2 linked regions of the Homo sapiens genome follow. The protein of the gene in region 1 binds, or shares a complex with, the protein of each later gene. Each region holds a gene or a part of one and is shown in the gene's direction. Other genes may lie near its edges.

The links.
Region 2: SF3B1 (region 1) and SF3A2 share a complex: the UniProt entries of both Homo sapiens proteins name them as parts of the 17S U2 SnRNP complex.

The regions. Positions count from the first base shown.
Region 1 is NC_000002.12:197,393,244-197,397,187, reverse strand, and holds part of SF3B1 (splicing factor 3B subunit 1), read left to right. Parts: intron 1-859; coding exon 860-1,132; intron 1,133-3,944. UniProt on the Homo sapiens protein: Component of the 17S U2 SnRNP complex of the spliceosome, a large ribonucleoprotein complex that removes introns from transcribed pre-mRNAs.
Region 2 is NC_000019.10:2,234,748-2,238,347, forward strand, and holds the start of SF3A2 (splicing factor 3A subunit 2), read left to right. Parts: upstream 1-2,076; 5' UTR 2,077-2,154; intron 2,155-3,600. Other genes in the region: PLEKHJ1 (pleckstrin homology domain-containing family J member 1), read right to left, coding at 1,015-1,081, 1,176-1,243, 1,408-1,501. UniProt on the Homo sapiens protein: Component of the 17S U2 SnRNP complex of the spliceosome, a large ribonucleoprotein complex that removes introns from transcribed pre-mRNAs.

The DNA.
Region 1 (3,944 bases):
CTAAAAAAAACAACAAAAATGCTATTCTAACATTACTCCACGGATTTAACTGAATTATAGCTGCTTTGTGAGATAATCTGTGGTGGTTTGCTTCCACTCCATCACAACTAAAATAGGAAAAAACAGTCATTGTAGAAAACGAGACACCACATGTCCATGTGGCTTAAGAAAATGTTTTCAAGGAATATGACATGTGAATGTCTGATTAATTAGGTAGAATTATACCAGACAACACCCCCTCCCCTAACACATACTCATTCCTCTCCTATTTTGGTAGCATAATATTTATTTCAGTGGTGATGGAGTCAAGACATTTGCAAGAATAGCTTTTGTGCAAGCTTTTAGCCCCAATGTCCCTCTAAGTTTATGTCAAAGAAGAGGCAAATAGATGCAGCAAATTGTGTGGAGGAAAGATAAAAGGAAAAGAGATTTTATATGGTTTATAATGGGAGACTACAATTCGGATATTCCCCTCACCACTCCTACCTAGTTCTAGTGCCCATTTTGACAACTCAGAGAATTACTCACTTTAAACATTTAGTTAAATTTCTTTATATTTCAGAAAGTTTAAGAACTGAAAATTACATTTGAAAATTGAGTTAACTTAAAATGTTTAGAATTTGTACAGCTATGACCTCTGATCTTCTCAGAGTCAACTTTTTTAAACTGACCTTTTAATTTATATGAAATTTTTATATAGAAACAACAATGCCAGTGACTTGAAAGTATTGCATTTTATAAAATTACTGAGTTCCCTGTAATTATTAATACTTAAAAGTTTTCATCTTTATGCATTTTTTTCTTCCATAAATTTTTGACTTATAATGTAACAGCTTGTTGACCCATTTGTTTTTTTCAGCCCTCATGATGTATTGGCTACACTTCTGAACAACCTCAAAGTTCAAGAAAGGCAGAACAGAGTTTGTACCACTGTAGCAATAGCTATTGTTGCAGAAACATGTTCACCCTTTACAGTACTCCCTGCCTTAATGAATGAATACAGAGTTCCTGAACTGAATGTTCAAAATGGAGTGTTAAAATCGCTTTCCTTCTTGTTTGAATATATTGGTGAAATGGGAAAAGACTACATTTATGCCGTAACACCGTTACTTGAAGATGCTTTAATGGATAGGTAAGTGACTTGAACTAAATACAAGAAAATAATTATAACTCTTCCTTCATTTTAGAACATCGTGAAATAGTTATTAGATGACTTTTTACTGTAACATAGTTAAAGAAAAAATTGCTAGCCTGGAGTCTTAGGACATTGTAAATATGACTTATTATTTTAAAATAATGTGCACGCTGTAGTGATTCCCCAGACTTTCTTTCAAGTTCTCCCATCCCCTTTAAATCTCTTTTCTTATCTATTGAATTAAATAAATTTTGAAAAGGGTTGATTGATAATCTTTTGTTTTCAAAATTGGTCAAATATAGTTAGAGGACATGATGAGCAGAAGCTAATGGGCAGAGACCTGATCTTTTTAGCTTTTTGTTGCAGGTAAAGGACAGGTTTCTCTTAAGCCTTTGAATTACTGAACAATAGCCTGCCAGAACTACACTCTTCCTGTTGCAGGTCCCTGGTGTTTCAGATGGTGACCACCAGTAGAGTACTGTTCAAGTTATTTGACAGATTGCTAATACCTTTTACCATCTAGACTGACGTACAGCCTTAAACACAGAAGTAACTGAAGAAAGTGCAAAGGAAAGTGCAAGCGTAGTAAGGGAAAGAACTGTTTCACTGGCTCTTTATTTTTCAGGAGAGATAAGTTACTCAAATCAGAGCCCATTCAAATACTTTTGTGTACAGATTTAAGTTATTCATTAATAACCTTCTGAAAGGGAGACTTAACTGGACTCGACAAGTTACCAGAACGTATATATGCAAGACATGGAGACAAAGTAAGAATTGTGCTCTGTAAAAGCCTGGCTGCCCAGGGCTAAAAAAAATGAGGGTAAATCACCCTTGCTCTGTATTCCTTAGTGAGAAGTGCCTGAGCACCATAGTGCAGTCATTAATGTATGTCACCTGCAGTTAAAAACTTTTTTCTGTGTACTAAGAAGTTAAGGGAGTAATTCCATTGAAAATTACTAAATGAAAAGAATACTTCAGTTGGAAATTTTATTAATGAGGAATACTGCTTCATTCTTATGCTGAATGACATTATTAAAATAAATAGGAAAAACAAGAATATTAGTAAATACAAGTATTTTTCTCTTTTCTCTTTGATATGGTCTGTGTTACTATCTTTGGAGCAAAGTGTGGAAACTCATTTTTTTTTTTGGACGGAGTTTTGCTGTGTCACCCAGTCTGGAGTGCAGTGGCATGATCTCGGCATACTGCAACCTCTGCCTCCCAGGTTCAAGTGATTCTTCTGCCTCAGCCTCCCAAGTAGCTGGGACTACAGGCGTGTGCCACCATGGCCGGCTAATTTTTTGTATTTTTGGCAAAGATAGGGTTTCACCGTGTTAGCCAGGATGGTCTCCATCTCCTGACCTCGTGATCTACCCGCCTTGGCATCCCAAAGTGCTGGGATTACAGGCGTGAGCCACCGTGCCCGGCCTGGAAACTCATTTTCATACCCATTGCAAATCCCATTGTGTTAGCCAGCGAGCTCATACTTGGTTGAATAATTGTGGAATGAATAACTCATTGATTTTTCATGAACATAAATTCAGTTAACATAGGAGATGATAGTTATTTCTGTAGGTTTGAAAAAATTATTGATCTTTTGTTCCTCTCCCCAAATTGAGTTATTGAATGAAACTTAAACTTTACGTGAGAAGGGAATTTAACTTTAATTTAGTTACCTATTATATACCAGTATCTGAAGTACTAGTAAAGATTTAAGTTTATAATCAAGAGTTTAAAATGATTTGGGAGGCCAAGGTGGGAGGATCGCTTGACCCCAGGAGCTCAAGACCAGCTTGGGCAACATAGCGAGGCCTTCCCTATCTCTAACAATAACAATAAAAAAGAAAAATAATTTTTCTTTTTTTTTTGAGACAGAGTTTCACTCTTGTTGCCTAGGCTGGAGTGCAGTGGCACAATCTCGACTCACTGCAACCTCCACCCCCCAGGTTCAAGTGATTCTCCTGCCTCAGCCTCCTGAGTAGCTGGGATTACAGGCGTGTGCCAAAATGCCCTACTAATTTTTGTATGTTTAGTAGAGACGGGGTTTCACCACGCTGGCCAGGCTGGTCTTGACCTCCTGACCTCAGGTGATCCATCTGCCTCGGCCTCCCAAAGCGCTAGGATTACAGACATGAGCCACCATGTCCGGCCTGAAAAATAATTTTAAAAAAGAGAAAAAAGTTTAAAATATTACTGTTTATTATTCATATGTTAGAACCACATGCCTCCTCTTTAGTAGCATAATAAAGCCAAGACTTCACAGAGCCCTCCTGCTCATATTCCTTTTAAAAGTTAATTAGATGGCCAGGCACGGTGGCTCACGCCTGTAATCCCTGTACTTTGGGAGGCTGAGGCGGGCAGATCACAAGGTCAAGAGATCGAGACCATCCTGGCCAACATGGTGAAACCCTGTCTCTACTAAAAATACAAAAATTAGGCAGGCGTGGTGGCACACACCTGTAATTCCAGCTACTCAGGAGGCTGAGGCAGGCGAATTGCTTGAACCTGGGAGGCAGAGGTTGCAGTGAGCCAAGATCACACCACTGCACTCCAGTCTGGGTGACAGAGTAAGACTCCGTCTCAAAAAAAAAAAAAAAGTTAATTAGAAAATATGGCTTAATTGTTGAGCCATAGTGAATCTTGAGTAATTAAAGCAAAAGTCCTCAAGTGGAAGCTATTCTAAAGGATATATTAGATATATGAAATGTTAGATGACTTCACATCTATTCAGTGCACTGAATTAGTAATTTAGTTTCTAATGGGCCGGTGAATATTTCCTGTAAAACTAAGACTGTATCTTTAAGGATTT
Region 2 (3,600 bases), on another chromosome or scaffold:
CCAGCACTTTGGGAGGCCGAGGTGGGAGGATCACCTGAGGTCAGGAGTTCGAGAGCAGCCTGGCCAATATGGCGAAACCCCGTCTCTACTAAAAATACAAAAATTAGCTGGGCATGGTGGCGCGTGCCTGTAGTACCAGCTACTCGGGAGGCTGAGGCAGGAGAATCACTTGAACCCGAGAGGGGGAAGTTACAGGGAGCCGAGATTGCACCACTGCACTCCAGCCTGGGCGACATACCAAGACCCTGTCTCAAAAAATAAGCAAATAAAATAATAAAGTGAAGTAAAAAGGGGTTGTCAGGGTGGGCCCTAAATTCTGCTTGGCGTCTGTGTAGAAGGGGAAATGTGGGCACAGACGTGATGCAAGGAGGACAAGGTGACGCTTCCACAAGCCAAGGAACCTGGAGGATACTGGCCACCACTAGGAACTGGGAGATTCCCCTCGGCCTCAGAAGGATTCGGCCCCACCCACACCTTCATCTAGGATTTCTGGCCTCCAGAACTGTAGAGAATGTTTCTGATATTTAAGCCACCTGGCCTGTGGAATTTTGACAGCCACTCTGGGCAAACTAGCAGGGACTCCATCTTTCCCCGCAGAAGGGAATCTCTTAAGACCCAGGAGAACACCCCCCTCTCACTCCTCCTACCCCCACCTGGGATTTCCAGCCCGGGGCCATATAACAATGCTAGACCCATGCTACTCTTGGCAGCTGGGGAAACGCTTTGGGTGGGGCTGGCCCACCTGCCCTGTAAGTACAGCCTGGGCCCACAGGGAACAAAGAGCAGAGTCTGGGAGGGACCCAAGCTTAAGTGGACTCGGCAGGTGGGAAGGGTGGTGCCCGCCAGGAGAACTTGACCTTGAGCTGCCCGTGGACAATGCACTCTTGTGTTTGAGGAGGGTGGCGCCAGGCTGGGGACACAGAGGAGACCTTGGGCGCCCGGGGAGGGGAAAGTGCGGCGCTGCGGGTGCCCCGGGCTGCGGGAAGCGCCGCTGGCTTCCCTAGCCCCACTCACTGATGGAGAAGGTGCCGGGCTCTTCCCGGACGACTCTGCAGCGCTCCAGCAGCAGGGCTCCGACGGGCTGGAGGAGACACGGGCGCCGGGACGGGGCAGTGAGCACCCGGCCTCCGAGGGGCCCAGCCTGGGACCCGCCCGCGCGCCCGGGACGCCCCTACCTCGGCCTCGTCTGTCCGAAAGTAGAAGAGGAAATTCACCACCAGCTTCACCAGCCGCCGCTTCAGCACTGCGGGCACAGCGCGCACTCAGGGGCGCAGGCAGCCCCCGCCCGGACCCCGGCCTCCCGTCCCCGGCGCCCCGACCCGGACTCCGGCCTCCGGCACCCCCGCCCAGACCCCGGCCCCGGCCTCCCGCCCCTGGCACTGTCTCGGTCTCCCGGGTCCCGCTCACCGCTGCCCTTCTTGGGGCCCCTCATGCCCAGCTCGGCCGCCATCTCGGCCGGCTGCCGGGACAGAGCCTGCAGCTCCTTCTCGTTGTACCGCATGGCTCCGCGGGGAACGGGAACCCGGGCCGCGCCCTCCCGGCCGCCGTCCCCGCTCAGGCTGGGGCCGGCGCCAAAAATGTCTCAGGGCGCAGACACGGAAGCACCCCCAGGGCTAGTGCGCCTGCGCACCTTGGGCCAGCCATGCCGCCCGCCTCCGCTGCGTGGCGCTGGCGACCCGTGGCTGCTGGCGTGGGCGGGGTACCGGTTGGTAGGAGAGACGGACCGTTGTTACATAACCATTAAACTGAAATAAACCGGACCAAGGTGGAACAGAATCAAGGCACCCCAGCGATGGCTGGCACCCCTTTCTAGAGCGGCCAGGCGCAGGCGGAGGGAGCGATAACGTCGCCCGGAGAGTGTCAGCCGCTCCCTCGCGAAAGTTGGCCCCGTGCGGCCGCAGCGGACCGAGGGTTCGTTGAGAGCGTTGTGCGCACGCGCAGTTTGCCTTCCAGGCCGCGCTTTCAGCCTCTCCCCCTCCAGCCTTTTCCTTCGCGCCTCGGGACCCTCTGACTCACGCCGCTGGGCGGGCCAGGCATGCGCACACCAGAGGGCCCGTCTCATTTGCCCCGGAAGTGCTTTCTTTGCCCGCCGTTCGCCAAACGAAGTCGTGGAGGTGGCGAAACGAGGAGGAGATAACGCGGCCTTGGGCTCTGGTGAGGAGTAGAGGCGGTTGAGGGCGGCGGCCGACGCGGACCGGGGGTTCCCTGGGGGACAGCGGACGTAGGAGAGAGGCGCTTGCGACAGGCCGCGGGCCGAGGGTGGGGCGGCGGCGTCGCTCCCCTCCCTCCTCCCGTGAGCGTCCGGCCTTGTGCATCCTGAGGCCCCGCGCTGGGCGGGCCTGGAGGGTCGGGCCCGCCAGGAACTCTATTTCCAAACTCCTGTTGGGAGGCCGCGCGCGGGGCCTCACGCCTGTAATCTCACTGCTCAGGGAGGCCTTGGCGGGAGGATCGCTTGAGGCCAGGAGTTCGAGACCAGCCTGGACAACACACCGAGACCCCCATCTCTACAAAAAATTTTAAAAAATTAGCCAGGAGTGGTGGTTGTACCTGTAGGCCCAGCTACTCGAGAGGATCGCTTGAGCTCGGAATGTCGAGGCTGCAGTGAGCCATGATCCCACCACTGCACTCCAGCCTGGGCAACATAGCGAGACCCCATCACTGCAAAAAAAAAAAAAAAAAAAATTAGCCGGGCGTGGTTGGTGACGCGCGCCTGTAGTCCCAGCTACTCTGGAGGCTGAAGCGGGAAGATCGCTTGAGTCCAGGAGGTCGAGGCTGCAGTGAGTTGTGATTGTGCCGTTGCACTCCAGCCTGGACAACAGAGCAAGACCCTGTTTGACAAAATAAAAAAGAAACAACCAAGATTCGTTGGGGTCGAATCGGGATCGCGGCTGAAATGGTTTCGGCCGCCTTCCTTGTAGCCGAGAACGCTTCTGTATGCTCATCTATACCTGTTAGTTGACTGGGGCTCTGTGATGTAATTCCTGTGAGCCTCAGTTCCCTTAAAATGGGAGTGACGGCTTCAACATCATGCCAAAGGCGACCAGAACACGTTAGCTGGCCCCATTTTGCAGGTGCACCCCGCTGTGACCGTTGTTCTTGTGTATCCTTGGACGACACCAAACAGCCAGGCGGAGCTCTGGAAAATAGGTTGTTGGCTAGGTTAAGGAGAGAACGGTGTTGCCACGAAAAACTAATTCCTTCTCAATGGTCTAGTCCCAGGTCCCAGAGGCCACTTTTCCTCAATTCTTAAGCTCATTTCCCCTGGTCGTCATCGGTTTTTTGTTTGTTTTGAGACAGGGTCTTGCTCTGTCACCCAGGCTGGAGTGAGTGCAGTGGTGCAATCACAGCTTACTCCAGCCTCAAACTCCCATGCTCAAGCCATCCTCCTGCCTCAACCTCTCGAGTAGCTGGGATCACAGGTGCTCACCACCATGTCCGGCGAATTTTTGTATTTTTTGTAGAGACGAGGTTTCGCCATGTTGCCCAGGCTGGTCTCGAACTCCTGACCAGGTGATCCACCTGCCACGGCCTCCCAAAGTGGTAGGATTACAGGCATGAGCCACTGCACCCGGCTAATTTTTGTATTTTTTGTAGAGATGG